4 linked regions of the Homo sapiens genome follow. The protein of the gene in region 3 interacts with the protein of the main gene of each other region in a biochemical or structural test. Each region holds a gene or a part of one and is shown on either strand. Other genes may lie near its edges.

Region 1 (2,723 bases), on a different chromosome or scaffold from region 3:
TGATTTTATCTGGACACAAAGAAAAATTAGTTCTATGGATTATAATTAAAGGGGCAGCAGGAGATAACAATAAAGTTGCTTTATGATTTCATGCCATGTTGTTCAATATACCAGTTACAAACGTAATGTATCTAAAAGATGAAGTGTAATTAGTGGTTTTATAATGATGTTGAGCTTTCTGGAACTATAACCCCTCATTATAGAATGTATGTTCCTTGTGGATCTTTAAATCCATAACTGTGTACCAAAAAGATCCCCCAATAAAACAGAAAATCTCCTCTTTCACTTCTGCATGTCTTTATAATTACAGATTGCTTCTTGACTCCAGTTGGATGCAAACGCAGTCTTCCATACAGCTGAGGGAAGTGGAAATGAAGATAGAGCAAAGTGACCTCCCACTGATACTGGCACATAATTACATTCAATGTCATGTTGTTACTTCCAAAGATACTTTTTGCTTATGTTGGCTAGGTTTTAATAGTTTTTGAGGCCTTACTTAAACCCTGCTGAAGCTTTTTTCAATCAAGTTAATAGTTAAGACCTTAAAATTTATTATAACAATATGTACAAATTTGATTTGAGCAGGTTCCATGAAATTGCTACACTTGTGAAAATAGCTTATTATACTAGTACCCTGCTATTTTTTTTTTAAAAGATGTACAGAGCTATGCTACCTGTTGGCAAATGTCTTCTTTAACTATGGAACAGAGAAATTTGTGACTGTCTGGAATAAAATTATTTCTTTAATTGAATACAAAAATACTCTGCATGTAAAAATATTAAGAAAGTTTATTTTAAAATATTTTACACTCTTTTGCCCACAGCTCTTTATTCTTCCCTCATGGTGAACTGCACTACTGCACTTGTGTGGCCCACATGACTTTATATCTTTGTACAGAGCATTTCCAGCATCATATCATCCATGCTGACTGTGCCGATGATGGGCCTGAAGAACAGTTCAGCAATGACATTGGCATTGATGAATCTCAGCAGGAAAAGGGTACTATTAAGTTCGATGAATCTGTCATGGGGCCCTTGGTGCGTCATCCTGGTGTGTTCACTGAGTATTTGCTGAGTTCCCCACTGGAGTCCCTGAATGTACTTCACGCACTGCAGGCCCGGCACGTCTGGAGGGAGAAAAATCTCTTTGTTATAAAACAGCTCACCACAGAGTCCTTTGCTAGCTTTTTAAAAATAGCCATTTCTGTTTCATCCCAATTAAACAAGACCCAAAGCTTCCCGGTTAAAAGGGTAAAAGGCCAAACCAGTCTACGTTTTCAGAAGCAACGTGTCCAAGAATGAAACATCATGTGATCTTACTTAATATTTACTATGTTTCTATGCACACGTTTGCAAATACACTGGCCATGAGCCAACAAACGCACACAATTTAATATGACAGTAGAATACGGTTTAATGAATCATCACTCCAGTTCACTTTCTATGCAAATATGAAGAAGTTCATGATATTTCAAGAGGTGGGCACTTTACCTATGAGAAACAAGCCATGATAAACAAGAAGTGTTGCCATGAGACAAATGTTTTTACCATTCTTCTTTGAACTTTCCATCATTACACTGATCGTTCAGCCAATGGTGGTAAACTTCACAGCCACAAACTTTGACGCACAGTTTCATTTTACCTATTTGCCTGCAGGCCAATATTAGTCTAGAGGCCCGAATAATTTGAAAGCTAACACTGGCCACTTAGCTCATTGCACCATGATTTCTGTATTGGGGAAGATTTTGAAAAAAATAAAAGAATGATTCTAATGAGTGTTCAAAAAGGCTCTTTTCAAAAATATTAAAGTAAGAAGTTTTTGAAAATTCTTATAGTCATTAAAAGTTTAAAAAGTAAACATGAAAACATCACGAATTGTACCATGATTCAAGAATAACTTTTGTAATAGAAAACACATGACCTTTTGCAGTATAGTGTGATACCGAAGTAAAAGTGAAAGAAATAAATGCAGGAAAGTTTAAGTGGATGTAAGTTTTTATAAGGAAAGTAATAAGAGGAGGCTGCTTTTGAAGGTCCTTTGATCTTCCATGATGATAATATCGTTGCAAAGTTCTTTAACTTGTATTCAAGTAATTAGCAGTTGACCACTTGGTTTAAATGATGTTAATGATGATTGCAATCATTTTCCTTCCCTTTTCCTAAAAAATTCAACAGAAAAGTATTTTAAAAGCACCATGCCAATCATCACAGAGCAGCAGAACCAGTGTTCTTTAAAAAAATAATAATGGTAATAAGCGAGAGGCACTCCTATTATGGGCGAATATCAAATCTCATAAATAAGAACAAAAATAAAGCAACCATTTTAATCCATATTCCAGTTCTGATTACTCTAGTCCACACATTATCATCCCCTTCTATCTACAGCTTGAGATCCAGGCTTAAGACCCAATTTTGTTGTGTTTGAATTCCATCGATGAAAGTAGGAAGAGGCTTGCATGAAACTCCACCAGAAATCTGAAGCTTCTCTAGGTCTAGATTCATGGCTTGTGAAAACTTCATCTTGTGTATGCCACATTACTTTTCTCTGTGTTCACAATATACCCCTCCACCTTCTCCCCACCCAAGTGGTTCCCCCCCACACAGAGACACACAAACTGGCCTTCAAAATAAGGTCAGGGAAGAGAAAATGCAAATGGACTCCACAGTTTTATATCTCCTTAAGTTTGAACCTATATATATAATGTATTTAAATTTATATATGG
Region 2 (7,038 bases), on a different chromosome or scaffold from region 3:
CACCGCGCCCGGCCACAGTCACATCAAACTTTCAATATGAACCTTTCTGAAGTCAATAGCACCTGCGCACATACTTCCTCAACTTTTTTTGTATTGGTAACGTCTACTTATTTACTTGAAGTCTGGACCTATAAAGAAAAATAAGTACGGAAAATGTAGCAGGGAGAGATGTCTTTATTTCAAAGTTTTTTTTCCAACAGCTTCGGAAACATGCCTAAAACTCCTGAAATACAGAAAATTAACAGAAATCACCCTAAACATCCCAGTGGTAAGTAAAATAGATGAGAAAAGAAAGAAGAAAGAATACCTGAGAAATGAACAGAAGTTTTGGGCCACTTACTAAAATGTACCTACATAGGATCAAAGCATTCAGTATGTATTATTAAGATTTAAGGTTTAGATATTAAAAAGTACTGAAAAATGGTAATATAAGCTAGATTCTCATAAAATTCCAGAAAAGCATTCCACTGTGTAAACATGCAGAAAATGACATTAATACTTACAGTTAGAGGAACAGGGTCTTGAAAAGCCAGGCTCATTTCATGGCAGTAAAGAAATAAAAGTAGGCGCTCACACTTCTAAGCAAAAATAAATAAAAACTGAGATAAAATATTATAAAACAATGAATTCACAGCTTATTTTAAATAACAATCTCAGAGGTCCCAAAGTGTCAGACTAAAAATTAAAACCCAGATGAATACAAAAAAATTACTGATTCTCGGAGTTTTGCTCTCCTTCCCAATATTTGGGAACAGGCCCTGTAATTGAATGAACTAAGACAATCACTAGAAAACCATTTGAAGTTTTCTAACAATAAATTTGCACTTATTGCTCCAGTCTGTGTATTATAAATTAGTAATAGTCTATAAAGGAAGAACGTACGTCTCTTAGGAGAACTGGAGGTGGACCTTCTCAATATGCATCCAGACCTAAGGCACCTTTCTGCATGCCGAAGGTCCAACCATGTGCTCTGCTATTCATATACTTCCCTGCTTTATGGGTTTATCCCAGTAACCACTGAGTAGTACTGGCAGTGAATGGGCACGTCCCCTCTTGCATGACAACTTTCATATTGACTGTTCTACTTAATAATTTAGCAAAGGAGTTTTTTTGGTAACAAAGTGTTGACTTGGTAGCTTTAAATGTTATTTACAGTTAAATATATCAGTTGGCTTTGATGCATAAGTCTAGTCCCATTCAGTGAAAAAAAAGGAATTATTTCCAGGAAGAGTAAAGAAAAAACCCAGCTCCTTGGTGGCAGTTCTAAGGAAAAATCTTATCTATAGTAGGAAATAAAACAAAATAGAAATTTACTTAAGGTAGATTAAAAGTCTAGGGTACATATTCCATCTTGTTCAGGTACAATAAGCTTCTATAAAATACATGCATTAATTCTGTGATTTTTTTAATTTAAAGAAAGTTACAGTCTTTAAGATTCATGTACCTTTGTAAACAAAAAAAAATACTCTTAAATAAAAAGGATCAGTATAAAATCTGGATGGATATACACCTCTTTGACAAAAGGTACCACAGTACAATATTGCACTACAATACAATAATGCATCTTACCAAAGACTTACCCTTTTATCTATAGGTGTTAACTTAACAAGGCCTTCAGTTTTCTTTTTTTCTGAGTTGTGACTGGGAGCATCACAATCATATTCAACTTCTGGTTTAGATAAGTCTCGGCAGAAAGTGCAAATCCACTCTCCACTGTTAGGGGACAATGTACTTTTGAATTCCTAATGCATCATTTCCTCTCTTCACTATTTCCCTTTCCCACCTCCTCCATGACATCTATGATACAGAATTGTTCATTTGGCATGAATTTTAATCACTGAGCATTTACCACATACCACTAGGTATACTGCACCATGCTGAGAGGAAACAGCAGAAATATAATGCAAGGGCCTAACAAACATCAAAATCTAGTTAAGAAGGTGTGAGATACATATATTGAAAAAAAAGAAACACCTAAACAAATTTAATCTAGGGCTCACATATCTAGGGCATAATTGAATTTTTTTCCTCCAAAGGATTCAGGAACTAGAAAAGCTCTTTGTACTATTCTTGTTACTCTTAAGTTTATAAAATTAAATTTTCAAAAGTATGGCCTTCCAAGAACTGAGAGATCAACCCAATGGCTCTTAACCATCTTGGTCATGATGATGATCATCATCCCCATAGGGTATGAGAATTTACTTGAAATACTTGTAAAAGATACAGTTCGATGCCTGGCAAAAAGACATAATAAACTGTGGTAGCTGTTATGCATAGGGACATTGTTCCTTATGATGATCCCTTGTGATAATTTAAAGGGCCTGTTATTTTTTTTTCTTTTTGTAATGACTAGGGAGAGGGTCTTGCTCTGTTGCCCAGTCTGGGGTGCAGTGGTGCAAGCACAGCTTACTGCAGCCTTGACCTCTCAGGCTCAACCAATCCTCCCACCTCAGCCTCCTGAGTAGCTGGGACTACAGGCATGCACTACCATACCCGGCTAATTTTTTATTTTGTACAGACAGACAGGGTCTCCCTGTGTTGCTCAGGCTGAATGATTAGTTTTTTGAAAGAAGCACAAAGAATAAGCGGAAGGGTATGGGAAAACCTAGACTATTCATTGGGATTTTGGAGTATACACTTGTGCCAAGTGGAATTTCATTTAAGTTTTTTCAAAGGCTTTCTGTTAAAATAATCTTCAAAAGTTTACAGTAAAAGAATGTGGGAAGGGAAGTACTATCTTACCTTGGAAAATTTGTCAATGTGGGCACATGACAAGAAAGATGGAATACTTTGGGGCACTTTTCACAGCAGAGGAGTTCCCCTCCGTTTTGACAAACTGCACACCAGTCCTCATTGGGGTCATCCTCTTTCCTTGTCTCTCCAACATGAAGAGGTGACTTCTGGGAAGGATCCAACCATTCAGACTTTCCATTTGAGGAATTGTCCTGGTGAAGTCCAGGTTGATCTCCTGTACTATCAGGGGCATCTGATCTTAGCACAGTCTCCTCAGAAGTAGAGCTCTGACTGCTATTTAAGAGCAGGGAGGTGAGTATGCTTCTTGGATAATTGGCCTGTAGTAGAAAAAAAATATATTTAACTGGCTTTAAAAAAAATTTTATCACTAATGCAATTCTGAACTGTAGACCACTCTCTGGTGAGCACCTGGCTGCTTCAAAGGAATCTTCAGGAGAAGGGTATATGTTTATTGCTAACTGGCTTAGAAGACATGAACCTCTACTAAAAAATACCAAAATAAATAGAGAAAAAATCTAAGTCTGGGGATGGCTACAGAAATTAGAGAATGGGTTGGGTAGAGTGGAAGTCAACCACATGACCTATATATATATATATATACCTCACTGGAGCTGTTCATTCAAATTATACCTAAGATACAAAAATTATAAGATGAATCTAAACTTTCTGTTGAAGCCCAGGATGGTGAAAATTTCAAATCAATAACAAAAACAATCTCCTTCAAATGTTTTCAAAAATTTCAAAGTAATAAATGTAGATATAGTTAAAAGCACTTATTCCTTGGAAGAACTATTTTCAAACCTAGCTTTTTCTTCTGCTGTTTACCTCCATATTTCTAAATAAAATGATTGTTAAAAATTGCAATACATCTATAATCCTTACTAGTGAAGATCAGGAGATTAGGTTTTTACATTCTGATTCTCCAACCCCGTCCTGCTTCCATTCGTGCGTGCGCGCACACACACACACACACACACACACACACACAAAACCACCACCACCACCATTCACCCCATCCCTTTAACTTAGTTTTGATTAAGCATTGATTGTTTTAGTTGGTAGGTACTGGTATAACTGTTTATTGCCAGTATCTATTCTAACTGATCAGTATTTGTCTTGTACTGGTTAAGTATTCTGAAAATCACAATTTTTGGTTAAGTGCATATTCAGGTTATATCCTGATTGCATCACAGTTTTTAGTTACATTCGTACTCAGGTGTTTGTTTACATCATTATTATTATTATTTAAATATTGTTCACTGCAGACCCACAAAATGTACTAAGACATTTTTTGTACAACTTTTTGTTTTTACTAAGACTCTGTAATTACCTTATATTTTCAGTTGCTTATCTTTCTAGGTACCTATTTCTATGTTATTCTCACAATCTCCAACAGGAGATTCTCAATACTGTTGAAGCATTTTTCTCCCTTGGGAGTCCTATGTCTTCCTGCTACAGACTACTGCACAAGCTGCTGCTGCTGCTGTACTGGGGGTTGCCTTTTTCTTCTGTGTCAGATTCCATTTTTGGAATCTTATGTCTTCTTTCTTGTTTTACTATATTTTTGATGATTCATATTATCAAGTATCTTCCTGAGAATGAGTACATAAGAATTATTTTGAGAACTTGCACGAAAATGTTTAGTTAATCTTCAAGTCAATCTGATTGATAATTTGCCTGGGTATAAAACTCTGATTAAAGAAAGAATATCTCCTTTTAACTGCCCAGCCTCCATATCTGAGCCTCTGATTTTTAAAAACTTTCCTGTTTTTCCATCTTTGTCTTTTTGTTTAATTTACTGAGAGATTCCCTCAAATTGTCTTTAAATCCTTTTAAATATAACATTAAAAAAAAACTCCTAAGAGCTATTTAAAAGATTCTCTCACCCTACCCACCATGCATAGGAATAGCATTGCAAGCATTCATAATTACATTTTGAGGCCTAGATTCTTCATCTGATTCTTGCTTCACTATAACAACAGGGAAATCATAATTTTCCGGTGGTCCACTGTTTTCTTGTTTTATTCGAATTGGCTCCAGCATGACCACTGGGACTTTGTGTGTAGAGTCAGCTCCTGCTGGTTTGCTGGAAGAGCCAGAGCTGTAAGTATGAGAGAGAAGAAAAAGCAATCTAAGAATGTTAAGCTAAATACCTCATAAAAAGTATAACAACAACTTTCTAAAATACTGTATCTTCACAACAATAAGTATGTTAACATCAGCAATTAATGATGCATAACAAATGAAACTGGTGTATGCAAGTTTCATTTATGATAAAAATGTTTTACATATTAACCTATCTAAATAGTTATATATCTAGAAAGATGTTTCAATAAACCTAAACTTTTAAAAACCTGAGGCTTTACAATTAGGCAACCAGATTTAGTATCTTAGAACTGGCATCTGATTTTAGGCTTTCTCATTTCCTTCTCTAGTCAGTAGCAAAGTGAATACTTTGGTGAAGACAATGAAATAATCATGTATTTACACAATACTATTTAAAGAAGGTAGTGGGTCAAAAAGCTTTTACAGAGATTCACTATGTTCTCATGGGATTAAAGGCAAACTTTTCTCCCTCAGACAATTCTTCCATATGATAAAGTAAGAACTGGGTTCACTAGCTAGGAGGAATTTTCAGGCATAATGCAGGGAAGAGGAGAGCAGTTGCTTAAAATATAGAATTTCAATAACTGTATATTTATTTTAAAGTAGAATCAACATTTAGTCATTAGAGATCAAATTAGCATAAAATTTTATCTTTTCTCTAAATTTGTGTTTCTATATAGTGTACTGTGTTATGCCTATTCATTTTTATGTTTTCTTTGCTATTATATGAATATCCAACATTTCTTATTTTCAACATATTGACAAATATTCTTCTATCTTCAAAGGTAAATTTGTACTTTTGTTAATCCCTTAACTAATTCATTAAAATATATAGTAGTTATTAAAATTTTAATTAAAAATAAAGGAAATTGTTCAAAATATATTGAGTATCAAAACATGTTGAACACTGGCAAAAGAAATCTAATTAGAGATTTTTATATACTAGAAAATATGGTTTAGTCAGTTTACCTTCCTCGGCTTCCAACGCTGGAGGCACTAGGTGAACGTATTGGGGGGTGTACACTAGTCATAGTAACAGGTCCTGAGGAGGGGGAAACCATACATTCATAAAACGAATGAATAATTATGCATTGAAGTCCTGTTGAATGTGTTCACTTAGCACTACATTGAAACTGGGAACCATGATGAAATTCTATGAAACAGTAAGTAGTTGCTGAATTTTCAGCAGTCTGTTACAGCCTGTTACACCGGCAGGGTTTTTCAGCCTCTGCACTATTGACTTTTGGGCCAGATAATTCCTTGTTGTGGAGGAATGTCTCTGCATTTCAGGATGTTTAGCAACATCCCTGGCCTCCACCAATTATTAGATACCAGTGGCATCTCTCTATACTTCCCAGCTTGGGGTGTGACAATCAAAAACATCTCCAAACATTGCCAAGTCTTTCTGTGTTAGAGTAACAGGGGTAAGATCTCAGTGAGACCCTAGTGCCAGTGGAAGCTACAGAAGACAACGAAAGGTGGTACGGGCTGATAGAAAAGGAGTTCAAAAAAGAAAACCAAGTAAACAAAATTAAACCAACTAATGGAAGACACAGAAAGATCAATGGGTTCAGACTTAAGGCAATAAACAAAAGAGGGATTCTGGACTACTGCCCTAAAAAGATTAAGAAGCTATGCTCTGGTGGTAGTGTAGACTGGAACAAGGAAGATCTAATTAAAAGCAGCCAAGAAAGAAGGAAAACTGTTGCAAATAATTGATTTGAACTGATGAAGGCCCAAACTAAACAGTAACAAGTAGGAATACAATGAAAGTGGGAAGTAGAAAAAAAATTCCGAATTGACAGAAGTTCTAAAAGGTTTGATGAACAACAGGATGTGGCTGATAAAATGAAGATTATCATTTCATTGGTTTGTAAACTCTGGAGAATTTAATTTAAAAATAAAAGGCCTGGACAACAAAGACCCGTCTCTAACCAAAAAAAAAAAAAAAAAAATTAGCCAGGCCTGGTGGCACCTACCTGTAGTCCCCACTACTGGGAAGGCTAAAGCAGGAGGATCACTAGAGCCCAAGCGTATGAGGCTGCAGTGAACCATGATTGCTACACCCTGGGCAACAGAGTGAGACCCTGCCTCAAAATCAATCAAAACAATGGCTATTTATAATCTCCTGATAATATAAGAATACATGCTTCATTTTAGAATAGTTGAAAACTATAA
Region 3 (7,038 bases):
ATTAATAAAATAAATTCTTCTATTGCCAGGACTGTCAGGAATAGCTAAAGATGTAAAAGATCTAAACCAGTGTGTTCTTTCAGAGAATAAGTTAAAAATAATATTTTATAGAGTTAAAAAGAAAAGCACTTGGATTTTTTTTTTCCAATGGCTGGACTCAGTTGGCCAATACCCTTGTTTGCCTGCTGAGTAACTCTTTGGCTGGCAATTGATTTTTTTAAGAGCTGTGGTTATGTGCTAGTTCATTAGCATGTGAATAATTCTTCATATTAAGTTTTCATTTGTTTGTCGTAAATCTCTAAACCCTGCAGGAAAGCAGAATATCTTTGACAGCTTTCAAACTTCACTTCTATCACACACAGCACTCCACCAGCACCTCTAGGAAACAGTGGTTCAAAAGGCCCTGCCCCAAGACCCCAGCATGTTAAGAGCGTTAGTTTAAAATCTCCAGTTCATCCTAGAACAATCATTTTAAAAGGAAAAAAAGAAGTGGGGAAGTCCTATAGAAAGCAATGGAAAGGGAAAAGTTCTCAACCCAGAATCGGGGCTTAGGTTCTAGTTCCTGGTTTGCTATAAATGGCACTTTGACTTTGGAATGTCTCTGGCTTCCGTTTATCCATTAGTCAGAGAATGATGGGACAGATTACTTCTGAAGACCCCTTATGTCCTATAAATCTCATAGTTCTCAACAAGAGGGAAACGGGAACAACAGGGGCAGAAACCAACGAGAGGCTGAGGAAACCAAACCAATGAGTTTTGGATTGTAGCTAACCGAGGAGAACCAGGTGTGTCAAAGGTGATGAAAGTCAGATGTGTAAAAAGCAAGAAGGAAACAAAATGAAGAACATGAGCCCTAAGAATTCAGTGTCTTTCCCTGGTAAAACTAAGAACATCAGGAAAGCCACACTCGATGAGGCACACATTTTTCCAAGCCAGTTTTCACTCTGACAGGGTTACCTCAAGTGATTGTTTGAGAGAGGGTAGAGGGGTTGACTACACTCATTCAATCTGCCAAATTAGAAAAGTCACCCAGAATACCCTGTGCTTTTTGAGTGATTTTCATGTTTATCTCCCGTAGCTTGCTATTTTGTTATTCAAAAGGAGTGTAAACTTAGGGCATTCATGTATAATACCTTTCATAACTCATGTTAAAATGCTGATGTTATTGGATTTCTCAGGAACACTACTGTTCTATTTCTCCATTCAAAAAGGTAAAAAAAAAATTAATTACTCTATTTTCATCATTAATCCCATTTCCCCCATTGTCTTTGTATTCTACATAGGAAGCATGCCATAGATCTATAATTGAATTTACTCATCTATATAAAACAGTACTTTTAATCCCATCCTGAAAATCAAAATATATTTTTGAAAATCAAAATATGTCAAAATTGAAAATCAAAATGTCAAAATATTGAAAATTGAAATATATCAAAATTAATTATATTTGATGTATCCCTCAAAAAATTGATTTCTCCTTACAGAAATCATTTTGCTTTCCTGGAAAAACACTGGGTTCAAGTGCAGCTTTCTTCATTCCGTTCTGGTCTGTCCAGTATATGAAAAGCACAAGCACACAATGACCAGTGACAGATTCACCATGAAGCTAATGAAGCTTCATGGGGCCCTTCCCTTGTGCAGAAGTCCTTCCAGTGCTTGGGGAAGGGCCGAAGCAATTTTATTCTCATAATTTGTAATATTTTCCTTAGAGAGACTCCACTACTGTGTATATTTTATGCCCCACAAAACCTGAATTCACCCCATCATGTCCCATTTGTAATTAAGCTTTCTTTCCTGTTAAGGAGGGACGCTTACCCAGCCCTTTGATGTACGGTCTGAAGATAAATACACTGTTAGCCCCCAACTAGAAGTGTAAAATCATTAAGACAAAATTTGAGAATGATACGGCTCCTATAATGGCAATCTTTGGATGATACTGTCCAAGCTGATGGAAAGTGTAAGGACTCCACTTTGCTTTGTAAAAAATACAAAAAAACAGCCATGGAAGTGCAGTACATTTTGTATGGAACATTGTACCACATTGTACCAAATGTCATGTTAAATTAATGATTCAAGATAAAATGCAGACCAAATTTGACCAGGGTTTTAAGAGGTTCTCTCTCCATAAAGCAGGCTGGCCACGATCTTCTCACTAGGTTTGAGGGTAAGGAGGTCCCCTGTGAAATATGAAAGTGAACTCTCTGCTATCTAAGAATTGGTGAATTGGTTGCAAAGAAAGGCAGACCAGGCCCACCCAGGGATCACTCTTGCAGTTTGACAGATCTACCTGGAGGCTGAAAGAATCTATGCAGCCTTCGGAAATGCAGTGAAAACAGTATAATCAGATATGACTAGGGAAAAAATAAAACAACTGGTGTTCATTTGCATGTCAACACCCAGAATTCTCTGCTAGTTCACCTCTTCTTCAGAATGCAGAAAGGATTGAAAAAGCTGGAATGGGGCCGGGCATGGTGGCTCATGCCTGTAATCCCATCACTTTGTGAGGCAGAGGTGGGTGGATCACCTGAGGCCAGGAGTTCAAGACCAGCCTGGCCAACATGGTGAAACCCCGTCTATACTAAAAAATAAAAAAATTTAAAAAAAATTGCCGGGCGTGGTGGTGGGTGCCTGTAATCCCAGCTACTCTGGAGGCTGAGGAGAATCACTTGAACCCAGGAGGTGGAGGTTGCAGTGAGCCTAGATTGCGCCATTGCACTCCAGCCTGGGCAACAGGAGCAAAACTCCATCTCAAAAAAAAAAAAAAAAAAAAATGAAATGGTTTGGCATGATGGTGGGGTGCTGATTCCTCTCTCTGTCCTTGAGTATTTACTGCCAGGAAATCCTGACCAACATCAATTGCCAAGGGGTTAAAGTCACATTGTTGTTAAATTGGGAGAGAAAATTAGCAGGATTTTGTGCCCTATGTTCAACTATTACAGAGTTTCAAAAACAGGAACCTGGAGCTTTATATGAGGGGACAGGGGAAGTAAAGGGGAAGAGTGACAAGGGTGATTTATCAGGGCATAGTTCCAGATAAATCACTTACATGGAGGTGAAAGAATTTCATGCATATGTTCTGTGCCAAGAAGCCAAATGGTTGAGCAGAAGCTCTGAAAGTTGAAGTGGGCAGTTCTGGGTACAGTCTTTCCACATGTGAAAAGGTGATGATTTTATATTCATGTTATTTGTACTCCTGCATGTGCAGTTGGTCTTTTCAGGTGTCCAGATCATCATTTTCTCATGACATGAAAGAAAGCCAATAAAGGCTAGTTGTGGTGGCTCACACCTGTAATCCTAGCACGCACTTAGGGAGGCCAAAGCAGGACGATCACTTGAGCCCAGGAGTTCAAGACCAGCCCAGGCAACATACATAGCAAGACCTCATCTCAAAAAATGAAATAATTTTTTTTTAGAAAAAGAAAGTAAATATTTCATTAATATAAATTATAATACACTGTAAAATGCCTGGAGGACAAGAAACACGTTTTCTCTAGGTTCTGTGAAAGCATCATTATCCATTCACATTTTTCTCATAATTAGAACCTGACGTTCTGGAAAAATACAGTAAATTTTCATCGATGTTACTTGCTCTGCCCCCCTTGTATTCCTCCCATTAATAATATTAATCCTGAAAAGAAAAAAAGAAAAAGGAAAGAAACCACCCAAGCAAAATGTTTAAGAAATACGGTAAGGACAGTTTGGTCCCAATTTCCTTAAAAATTAGAGCCACCAAGTAAACCTGTTTGGGGGTCCTCACATCTGTCCTCTTTTGGAGTTTGCTAAGTAGTACAGTTGAAGTGAATTTTTTGGTAACAAAAGTAAAAACTTCCAGAATAACTCCAGTAAAGGGTGTTGATGTGACGTACAAGTTTGGAAATATATTTAATATCTGAGACTCCTCAATGTTGGTGTTATTTCCTCCAGTTTAGAACAAACTTAATCTTTTGATGAAAATCATAGAGTTCCATAGATATGAATAGAATCTCCAACCAGTGCATCTTGAAGCCGGCTGCCACGGCCACTCATGCACCTTCTCTCCTTTCAGGAGAGAATTGTCAGCATCTCTGCTCAAAACAATCTTTACTTTTAGTCCATCAGAGACTTCATGTTTGTCGTGCATGCACACTCACACCTCTCCACACATATGCCCACTCCCCACACACATCCTGCTTCTGAGAAATGCAACTAGAATTTCCTCCGGAGAAGAGATGGAAACCCCTGATTGAGAAATTTAAGGCCTAGGAAAGGTAAATGACTTTTCTTAAGTCACATGGCTCACCACAGAACCAAAGCTGGAACACACATACCCTCAGCTCTTCTTCCAGTGCTTTCAGGTATACAAGTATTTGAACAGGATTCAAGGTTTAACTCCTTATGTGTCATTCAGTGTATCCAGTGTAAGTAAAATGTTACCCCTTAGTCAGAACAGCCTTGAGAATTTCTCAATGACTACAAACCTTGCTTAGTTCTATACAAGGGAAGTAAAAGAGAGAGAATGTCATGACCAAATGACTTAACTTTTGAAGGCAGCCTATTGCAAACTTGAATAATTGGGGCATGTATTTTATTGATTGTTTGACCTATAAGGACAGATATTTTAAAATATAAATTCAAAATTGCTTTTTTGCAGCATTCACCTGTAGGCCTTCTATATCTGCTCTTTGTGAAATAGATGGCTTCCAGAGCATTAAAAAAAGAAATAGACATTTTCTTGGTTCAAGAGCTGTAATCTGCTTTCCGAGTGATTTTTCATAGTTAAGCATATTTTATGTGCACATAGTTTCATTTGAGATCTGAGAGGATTTCATCTAAAACGGAAAAGTTATTACCTGTGAAGGAGAACAAAGGAAAAGGAAAAAGAAATTTTAAGAAAAAAAAATTTTTTTAAACCTGTAGTTACTTTATGTTCAAGTGGGTATTTTCAACGCTGAGTTGCTGAAATGGTTTTTTATTGAAAGAAGGTTAAAAGTGTATTTCATTGAAAGCCAAGATAAACAGTAGATTTTGTATCATTTTAAAAATCAACAATCGGCCGGGTGTGGTGGCTCATGCCTGTAATCCCAGCCCTTTGGGAGGCCAAGGCAGGCAGATCACTTGAGGCCAGGAGTTCAAGACCAGCCTGGCCAACATGGTGAAACCCCATCTCTACTAAAAATACAAAAATCAGCTGGGTGTGGCAGTGCATGCCAGTAATCCCAGCTACCCAGGAGGCTGAGGCACAAGAATTGCTTGAACCTGGGAGGTGGAGGTTGCAGTGAGCCCTGATTGTGCCACTGTAATTCAGTCTGGGCGCAGAGTGAGACTCTGTCTCAAAAACAAACAAACAAATAATATAAAAATCAACAATGAAGACTCCCCAAACAAAAGAAATCAGGATTCTTAGCCAGTCATAGGTAAAGTGTTACAGTGTAAATTGAAGGGAAAGAAGACCAAAATTGGTGAAATATGTTTGGTCCCAGAAGATAATTAAGATGAATAAAAGAACTTGAGAGTATTTTCTCATTATTAAGCATCTTCAGCTTTAAAGATTTTAGTTAGCAAAGCAAGTTTACATAAACAGTTTTCTGAACCTGGGATGGCATTCACTGTGAGTTAGAAATCTCCAAGTCATCCACGTTTTCCCTGTTTTATTTGCAGCCATTCGTTATCTATGACATGAATTCCTTAATGATGGGAGAAGATAAAATCAAGTTCAAACACATCACCCCCCTGCAGGAGCAGAGCAAAGAGGTGGCCATCCGCATCTTTCAGGGCTGCCAGTTTCGCTCCGTGGAGGCTGTGCAGGAGATCACAGAGTATGCCAAAAGCATTCCTGGTTTTGTAAATCTTGACTTGAACGACCAAGTAACTCTCCTCAAATATGGAGTCCACGAGATCATTTACACAATGCTGGCCTCCTTGATGAATAAAGATGGGGTTCTCATATCCGAGGGCCAAGGCTTCATGACAAGGGAGTTTCTAAAGAGCCTGCGAAAGCCTTTTGGTGACTTTATGGAGCCCAAGTTTGAGTTTGCTGTGAAGTTCAATGCACTGGAATTAGATGACAGCGACTTGGCAATATTTATTGCTGTCATTATTCTCAGTGGAGGTAAGATTTGTCTTTTGATCTTCTATGAAAGAGGGTGGGATGATGGTGGGGTGGCCAAAAGAATTTTGGATTTCCTTAGTGTTAGTCTGCATTGTCACTTTAAGTGCCAGTGGCATGATGCCATGAATCATCACTACACGTGCAAAACACTGTACCAAGAAAGAGTGTCATAGGTTTGCGGTGTGAAGGTTATAAGTAACCCAGGATCTTCTCTTTCATCCCTCAACAATATATTTTTTCCAGTCAAATGCCCTCTTCTCCTTTTTCTTTTTCTTTTCTTTTCTTTGTCTCTTTCTTTTCCTTCCAGAAAGGAAGATTAGAGGCCAGTCTAATCTTTGGTTCCTGTAAGTAATGGCATGTATAACTTTGCTTAAGACAATGCTCACTTGATGTAGAGAAGGGACCACTAAGTATTTCTGGTCAAATCATGCTCCTGCCCCACCATCAGTAAGATACTACTTTGAATTGCTTTTGTGATATCAGGAATTAAGGAATACCTACTGACCTCCACCCACTCTCTTGTGTGGATTCCTCTGATGGCTTCCCTTAAAGTACCTTTGTGAGGTAGTTGGTTGTGATTAAGAATGCAATGTGAACCGAACACACAACATAGAAATAAATTTAGTTATTTAGCAATTTGTTGTATTTTTGGCCCTGCAAGTAGTACATGATCTGACTAACCAATTCCAAAAGCCAGATTTTCTTCTGAGTGTGACTTTTTTCTTTTTTTTTTCTTTTTTTTTTTTCCTTTTTTTTTTTTTTTTTTTTTTTGTGAGACAGGGCCTCACTCTGTCACCCAGACTGAAGTGCAGTTGCACAGTCATAGCTCACTGCAGCTTCTAACTGCAGTTAGTAAGCTATGATCATGCTACTTCATAAAAGTAATACGTGGCCATTTTACAGTTGGGCTCAAGTGATTCTCCCACCTCAGCCTCCCAAGTAGACAGGAC
Region 4 (7,836 bases), on a different chromosome or scaffold from region 3:
TAATAAAAAATGCCATGGCCTTCTACAGTTCTTCCATGAAACTGAACTTAACCCAATGCATACATACTGGTTGGGTGGTCTGTTATCGACACTTTAGGCTTGCCTTTGCAACCTAACCAGTATGTGAACAGAGGCAGTGAATTCACTGCTGATTTCAGTACTGCTTGAGAAAGTGCTCTCTGAACCAGCAGCACATTCCACTGTATATCCTAAAGAGTGACAAATCTTCATTTTCTGAGGCTAGGTATACTTTCTTGGAAAGATCTGATGACTAATATATGTAAAGCACTTAAAATAGTGCCTGATGCACATTAAGAGCTATAGAAGTATTACCTATTTTTATTACTTTTAGTCAAAGAACAGGATATAACAAAGAAAGACATAAAGTTCATCAATTTCATTACCATCATCTCTCTCCAGGACTCTTGCAGAAACCTCATGACTGCTACCTACTCTTCCCCTCTACCCTTACTCTTCTCCTCCTGCTGCTCCTTTAGCTTAACAAGGATGCTTCTGCCTCAGGGCCCTTGCGCTTTCCTCCAGGTATCCTCGAGCCCAGGCCTTCACTTCCTTCAGGTGTCTGCTCAGAGGTCATCTTCTCATTGAGGCCATTCCTCACCATCTTTTATTTTTAAAAGTCTTGCCTCCAATCCCCCTTAATATGCTTTATTACTCTCCATAGTACTAACCACAGTCTGGCACGTAGCAACCATTTATTTTCTGATCTCCCTTCAGAAAACATACTAGAAGGTAAGTTCCACATGGCGGGGACTTTGTCTTTTTGTTCACTGTTGTATAGTAGGTGTTCAACAATTAATTACTGAGTAAATGAATTCAGTAAGTATTTACATCTAGTCTACTATGTGCCGAGCCTTTTTTTAAAAAACTCACTATCTCAATTAGCCCTCATTAAAGTGGCTATTATCATCACCATTAATTAAAAAAAAAAAAAAAGCAGACTTGACAAGGTTAAATATATTACCTACAGTCACAAACTCCCAAGTAGAAGAGCCAAGATTTAATCCCAGATCTGAGTCCAAAGTCCCTAACCACACCTGGTATGTTGAAGGAATCATTAAGTATTAAGGTATTATGTATTCATCCAACAACTATTTATTGAGTACCTAAACTGACACTACTGTGATAGTCCCTGAGAACACAATGGTGAGCTTGCCACCTAGAGGAGAACTCGTGTCATAGATTCACCAACCAAGCAGAAAATACTAATTCTTTGAAATAAGAGACTGAGTTCAAAGTCCATCAGCAGCAGCAATGACTGGCTCTGAATGCTAACACTATGTGAGGGAAAGTATTATAAAACACTAACTTAGGGACTCTCAACCGGGGGAGGGATATGTGTCAGGATATCCTATGGAGTTTTATGAAACCCCTACACCGGATCCTGAGATTCTGGCACAGCTATACTGATTTAATAAAAAAAAAAAAAAGGGGGGGGTGAGGGGTACTATGTAGTTCTAAAATATCTTCTCTCCCTTTGAGAAGGACATCTTCCTCCCCTTCCATAGCTCAACATGTTTTTCCATTTCCGAAATGCCTGTTTGCACAAAGGTAATAATGTAATTGTAGAGATTTATTTAGATAAAAACTACCACAAAACTTTCAAAGAGTAGGATTTTCCTTAGAGACCCAAGGACAAAGGCTCCCTGGAAGGCAGGAAAGGAGAAAATGAAAGGAACGTTATTGTGCTGGACTTTACATACATAATCTCATTTACTTATCTGAACAAATCTGCAAGCTAGCAAATCTTCAAATGAGAAAACCAAGTAAATTGCCTAAGCCACTGCATCCTTAGGGTAAGTCTTTCTCAAACGGTCTCAAGTACTTTAAAGTTTGGAAATGTCACACTAGGATCTCGGTATAAAAATGGGCCAACTATGACTTCCTGTGCCATCCTCATTCCAATAAGTAACTCAAGAGTCTCTATAAACTTAGTTCCAAATTACCAAGTGCGTGGTGGAAAGCTAAGTCCATCCAAAAGGCAATTACTGTGGTGAACCCGACCCTGATTAGAAAGTGACACAAAAAGGCACAGTTAAAAGTAAAAAAGCTCTGCCTTTGGGGTCAGATAAATTCAGCACTCTGACTTCTGTCATTCTACTTCTGCCATTCTTGATGGCATCATTCCATGTTAAATCCCGTGCCACGTAAGATTATGATTATTGTTTTCCCCACAACAAGAATTTAGTTCCATGAGAATTAGGTGTCCATTTTTTTCATTGCTATCCTCAACATCCTGAACATACAGGCACCAAATAAATGATTGCTGGTGGAATGAACCAATGAATGAGCAAGCCTTACTCTTCTCAGCTGTAAAACAGAGATAATCAAGCTACTTTTCGGGATTATTGGGAGAATTAAATGTGACAGTATGTGTTTGGCACACAGAGGGCCAAAAAAACCCAATATCTTCTTTGCATTTCCACCTGACAAGCTAGAAATGGATTATGTTCTGTGCCCGTCCGGCAAAACAGACCTCGCCTCGCCCCACATCCAAGCAAGAGGCGAGAGAAACAGGAAACTTGGAGCTGTCACACCTAAAGAGAGGGGAAGGCCGGCGGGGAGCAGGAGGTGTCCGAGCCGGGTGTGAGGAGGGTCGGGGAGGAAAGGACAGGCCCACGGCCGGGCACGAGGAGGGTCGGGGAGGAAAAGACAAGCCCGGGCCCGGCGTGTGGCGGGAAGGCGAGAACGTAGGCCCGGGCCCGGCGTGTGGCCGGAAGGGGAGAAGACAGGCCCGGGCCCGGCGGGCAGGCAGGAAGAGGTGCCCGGGCCTGGCGTGTGGAGGGGAGGGAAGGGAAGGAGAAGGCAGACCGGTCCCGGTGTCGGTCGGGTCGGGAAGGGGCGGACAAGCCCGGGCCCAGCGGGCCAGCGGTCATCGAGCCTCCACCCGGCCCACAGCGTTCTTACCAGGTCCGAGTGCCTCTCCAGGCGATCCGAGGAGACCTTGGGTGGACTGAGACACGGCCCCACACTAACCTACGGCCCAAAGGCAGAGTTCTCGCGACAACACAATCTTCCTCCCACACCTCTCGCCATACGTCTGACAGTCTCGCGAGATCTCCGCTCGGGTCAGCCAGAAGCCCTTGACTGCCCTCTAGGAGGCGCAGAGCGCAGGCGCACACTCCCTCCCCGCCCTTGCAGTGTCCTTTAGTCCTTCGTGAATAAATCGAAATTAAATGAAGCAAATGCTTTTTTGAAGGCAAATTTGGTGCCAAGGACCATCCTAAGTGATTCAGATGGCCTCACAAGGTAGATATTATTTAGTTTGAACATTCAGATGCAAAAATGAATATCGTAAGACACAAAAGGCCATATGTTGTATGATTCCACCTTTGCCACATTTGTTTTTCTAAGGATTGAGTTAATAGGCCGGGAGCAGTGGCTCACGCCTGTAATCCCAGCACGTTGGGGGCCGAGGCGGGCGAATCACGAGGTCGGAAGATGGAGAGCATCCTGGCTAACACGGTGAAACTCCTTCTCTACTAAAAATACAAAAAAATTAGCCAGGCGTGGTGGCTCGCGCGTATAGCCTCAGCTATTCGGGAGGCTGAGGCAGAACTGCCTGAACCTGGGAGGCAGAGGTTGCAGTGAGCCGAGATCGCTCCACTGCACTCCAGCCCGGGCGACAGAGCAAGACTCCGTCTCAAAAAAAAAAAAAAAAAAAATTGAGTAAATAAATAAATGGCAGAACCCAGATTCTTTTTTTCTTTTCTTTTTTCTTTGAGACAGGGTCTGACTCTGTCGCTCAGGCGCAGTGGCGCAATCTCGGCTTGCTGTAACCTCTGCCTCCTGTGTTCAAGCGATTCTCCTGCCTCAACCTGCTGAGTAGCTGGGATTACAGACATGCGCCATGATGCCCGGTTTTTAAATTTTTTTGTAGAGACAGGGTCTTGCTGTGTTACCCAGACTGGTCTCAAAGTCCTGGGCACAAGCGATCCTCCCACCTGATCTAGGATTACAAGCATGAGCCACCACGTCCAGCCTACAGCCCAGATTATAACCCACATTATTTACTTGTGACTAGATGTTAAATAGCACTTCTTTCTGTCTCAGTTTTGACAGAGGTCCTCCATACTCAGTTGCCAACTGCTTCCCCACATTCCGCAGCAAAGGAGGTGATCATAGCAGGGTTTTATGGATCTCATCCAAGAGTGACTCTGCTACAAGGGGCAAGGCAACCTCATTAGAAAACAATAGGAGACATAGATTACGATGCAGAAGCTAAGATAACAGTCATAGGCTGTGAGTGGAAGGGGAGCTGTGGAGAGAGAAGCCCACAAAAGTCCCATGAGGAAGTCAGCCTAGAACATGACCTCAGGCAGAAGGAGCCCTTAACTCTCCTGTCCCCCATTCCCTCTCAATTCAGATGCAGCCCCTGGAATGAGACTTTGTGTAACTCAAAATGTAACTCAGACCACTTTTTTAAATTATCTGAAGGTGAACAAGAAAGCTAAGGGACCTGTCTAGATTGCTCAACTGGCCCACATAGCATGTTTAAACAGATAGGGGACAGGGGAAAATAAAGCTCTTTATCAGTTGCCCACTGATTGTTCAACAGATGACTGTTTGCTCATTTCTGATCTGTCACGTACACACAGCTGAGTCCAAGCCCCAGGAGAACAGGGTTCTCTCCTGAAATCTCTCTGGTTCACTGCTGTATCCCCAGGTCTAGAGCACTGCCTGGCCCAGGTGCTCAGTACAGACCTGTTGAGTGAACAGATGTTCTTTAACACAGAAACAGTTAAAAGAGAATCAATGTTGTCGTTGTCTTAAGCCACTAAGTTTTCGGTGGTCTGTGTGTAGCAAGAGGTAGCTGATGCTGGGGCCTTGCACCCAGGCCACTCTCCATCTGCAAGGCAGAGCCCCTGGCCTTTAATTCCCCTCGGGCTGCATGTGGTCTTGGGGGCACTTTCTTCAGGCTTGTTCTAAGCTGTTTTACAGGCTTGTTCTAAGCTGTTTCTTGTTCTAAGCTGCTTTGACCTCAAGCAAACACAGAGGAATGTGGGGGACACATCATAGAAGACACTTCCTGATGAAGAGGAAGGAGGGATAAACAGGAACACCGTAAAGAAAAGAAGGGATCTAATTCCAGCTTGAAGACACACATTTTTTTCATCGTTCACCAGACAGCAGGACACGGGCAGCAGAGTGCAGACATCAGAAACAGTAAGAGTGGCAGTGGTCCCCTGAGTAAGGGATGCACAATGACCTATTATAGAGTTTAGGAAAAATAGAACTTTTATTCATATGTATTTTGTTTTGTTTTGTTTTGTTTGGGTTTGGGTTTGTTTGTTTGTTTGCTTGTTTTTTGAGACGGAGTCTCACTCTGTCACCCAGGCTGGAGTGCACTGATGTGATCTTGGCTCACTGCAACCTCCGCCTCCCGGGTTCAAGTGATTCTCCTGCCTCAGCCTCCCGAGTAGCTGGGACTACAGGTGCCTGCCACCACGCTAATTTTGTATTTCAGTGGAGACGGGGTTTCACTATGTTGGCCAGGCTGTTCTCGATCCCCTGACCTCAAATGATCCGCCTGCCTTGGCCTCCCAAAGTGCTGGGATTATAGGCATGAGCCACTGTGCCCGGCCATTCATATGTAGTTTTGTCTCCCTTTTTAAATGTTTTGTATTCTTTATAATGTGTATTAAATCAATGCATACATAAATTATAAATTAAAAGGACACACATATTCAAGTGTTTGCTCAAAAATCTTTTTACTGATAGGCATGGCTACACAATCATTGACTATTAGAGGCCAGAGGAGAATGAGGCCTGGCCTGGGAGCCCTGTGCCTACTAGAAGCACATTAGATTATCCATTCACTGACAGAACAGGTCTTTTTTGGGTCCTTCTTCTCCACCACGATATACTTGCAGTCCTCCTTCTTGAAGATTCTTTGGCAGTTGTCTTTGTCATAACCCACAGGTGTAGAAACACTGTCATTGAGACAAAACTGGGGCCTGTTAGAAGAGAAAGGACCCCGAGCACCCCCTCCCCAGTGCCAGCTCTGTTCAGGAAGTCACCCACACTCCAACTTAAGGGCACCCTTTGGCTGGCAGCCCCAGAGTGTGACCTCCAGGAACCTGGACCAGTCTGTACCATAGAGTCACACAGCTCACCCCTACATTCCATCCTGCAGGCACAGAAGGTCATCAGTAGGTGCTGACAGGCCCAGGGGCAAGTCTGGCTACTCTAGAAAGTGGCAGCTTGTTCCATGCTGGCTCCTCCCACCCTCCCTGTTCAGGAAGTGGCCAGCATATTGTTGCTAGAATGTGGAAAGGAAACAAATCCCAGCCCTGACTTGGAGGCCTGTTGGCAAAGGAGCTCTCTCAACCAACCAGAGCAATGAGTCACTCCAGGCCAGTGTCATGGAGCCCAGGGAGAAGCTGATGAAAGTCAGAGACCACCTCTAATTGAGCTGCAGTACATACAAATATTTTGAAGAGTTCTGATGAGATGAGATGATACTAATGCTAGAATATTTATGTATTATTACTATTATTACTTTAATTTTTTGAGATGAATTTCACTCTGTCACCCAGGATGGAGTGCAGTGGCACGATCTCAGCTCACTTCAGCCTCCGTCTCCCAGGTTTAAGCGATTCTCCTGCCTCAGCCTCTTGAGTAGCTGGGATTACAGGAGCACACCACTACACCCAGCTAATTTTTATATTTTTAGTAGAGATGGCGGGTCGGCGCGGGGGAGGTCTCACCATGTTGGCCAGGCAGGTCTCGAACTCCTGACCTCAAATGATCCACCCACCTTGTCCTCCCAAAGTGCTGGGATTACAGGCGTGAGACACCATGCCCAGCCCAGTGCTAGAATATTAAGTGGAAAAATCAGCCCACAAAACTGTGATATAAAATTTGATATCCACTATGTAAAAGAAAAAACATATAGAAAAGAGACATAAAGAAATGATGATAGGGCCGGGCGCTGTGTCTCACGCCTGTAATCCCAGCACCTTGGGAGGCCGAGGCGGGCGGATCACGAGGTCAGGAGATCGAGACCATCCTGGCTAAACCGGTGAAACCCCGTCTCCACTAAAAATACAAAAAATTAGCCGGGCGTGGTTGCAGGCGCCTGTAGTCCCAGCTACTCAGGAGGCTGAGACAGGAGAATGGCGTGAACCCAGGAGGCGGAGCTTGCAGTGAGCAGAGATCACACCACTGCACTCCATCCTGGGCGACAGAGCAAGATTCCATCTCAAAAAAAAAAAAAAGAAAATAAATGATGATAGAAGCCCAGGCATGGTGGCACATGCCTGTAATCCCAGCTACTTGGGGCTGAGGTGAGACAACAGCTTGATCCCAGGAGTTTGAGACCAGCTTGGGCAACATAGTGAGACCCTGTCTTAATTTTTTTAATACAAATAAATAAATAAATAAAAATAGAATGTTAATAGTTATTACCTTTACACAGTTGGGATTATGAGTAGGTATTTCTTCTTTTTTCTCTTATGCTTCCCAATGATTCTATAATTCATATGTTTACTTAGAAAATTGGGAAATATCATTTAAAACCTTTCATGTTTTTCATGTTTAAAGGTGATTGCTGGCTGGTAGGAATGTAAAATGGTGCAGCTGCTGTGGAAAACAGCTTGGCAGCTCCTCAATAAGTTAAACAAAAAATTACCATATGACCCAGAAAGCTACTCCTGGGTATATATCCCAAAAGAATTGAAAGCAGGGACTCAAACATTATATGCCAATGTTTGTATATTGACAAACACTGTATGCCAATGTTCAGAACAACATTACTTACTTTATCCAACAGGCAGAAGCAACTCAAGTGTTCAACAAATAAATGGATAAGCAAAA

What was found.
Region 1: the proteins of PPARG (region 3) and NR0B1 form a complex in vitro, tested with the Homo sapiens proteins (2 studies listed by BioGRID, with this or other methods).
Region 2: the proteins of PPARG (region 3) and TRIM24 interact in a test that uses a peptide from one of them, tested with the Homo sapiens proteins (2 studies listed by BioGRID).
Region 4: the proteins of PPARG (region 3) and NCOA4 form a complex in vitro, tested with the Homo sapiens proteins (2 studies listed by BioGRID, with this or other methods).

What each region holds. Positions count from the first base shown.
Region 1 is NC_000023.11:30,303,697-30,306,419, forward strand, and holds the end of NR0B1 (nuclear receptor subfamily 0 group B member 1), read right to left. Parts: intron 1,128-2,723; coding exon 883-1,127; 3' UTR 510-882; downstream 1-509. UniProt on the Homo sapiens protein: Nuclear receptor that lacks a DNA-binding domain and acts as a corepressor that inhibits the transcriptional activity of other nuclear receptors through heterodimeric interactions.
Region 2 is NC_000007.14:138,575,237-138,582,274, reverse strand, and holds part of TRIM24 (transcription intermediary factor 1-alpha), read right to left. Parts: intron 5,903-7,038; coding exon 5,830-5,902; intron 4,856-5,829; coding exon 4,687-4,855; intron 3,072-4,686; coding exon 2,743-3,071; intron 1,714-2,742; coding exon 1,581-1,713; intron 579-1,580; coding exon 504-578; intron 1-503. UniProt on the Homo sapiens protein: Transcriptional coactivator that interacts with numerous nuclear receptors and coactivators and modulates the transcription of target genes.
Region 3 is NC_000003.12:12,411,067-12,418,104, forward strand, and holds part of PPARG (peroxisome proliferator-activated receptor gamma), read left to right. Parts: intron 1-5,637; coding exon 5,638-6,088; intron 6,089-7,038. UniProt on the Homo sapiens protein: Nuclear receptor that binds peroxisome proliferators such as hypolipidemic drugs and fatty acids.
Region 4 is NC_000010.11:46,027,601-46,035,436, forward strand, and holds the start of NCOA4 (nuclear receptor coactivator 4), read right to left. Parts: upstream 3,024-7,836; 5' UTR 2,926-3,023; intron 1-2,925. Other genes in the region: MSMB (beta-microseminoprotein isoform a precursor), read right to left, coding at 5,822-5,951. UniProt on the Homo sapiens protein: Cargo receptor for the autophagic turnover of the iron-binding ferritin complex, playing a central role in iron homeostasis. Acts as an adapter for delivery of ferritin to lysosomes and autophagic degradation of ferritin, a process named ferritinophagy.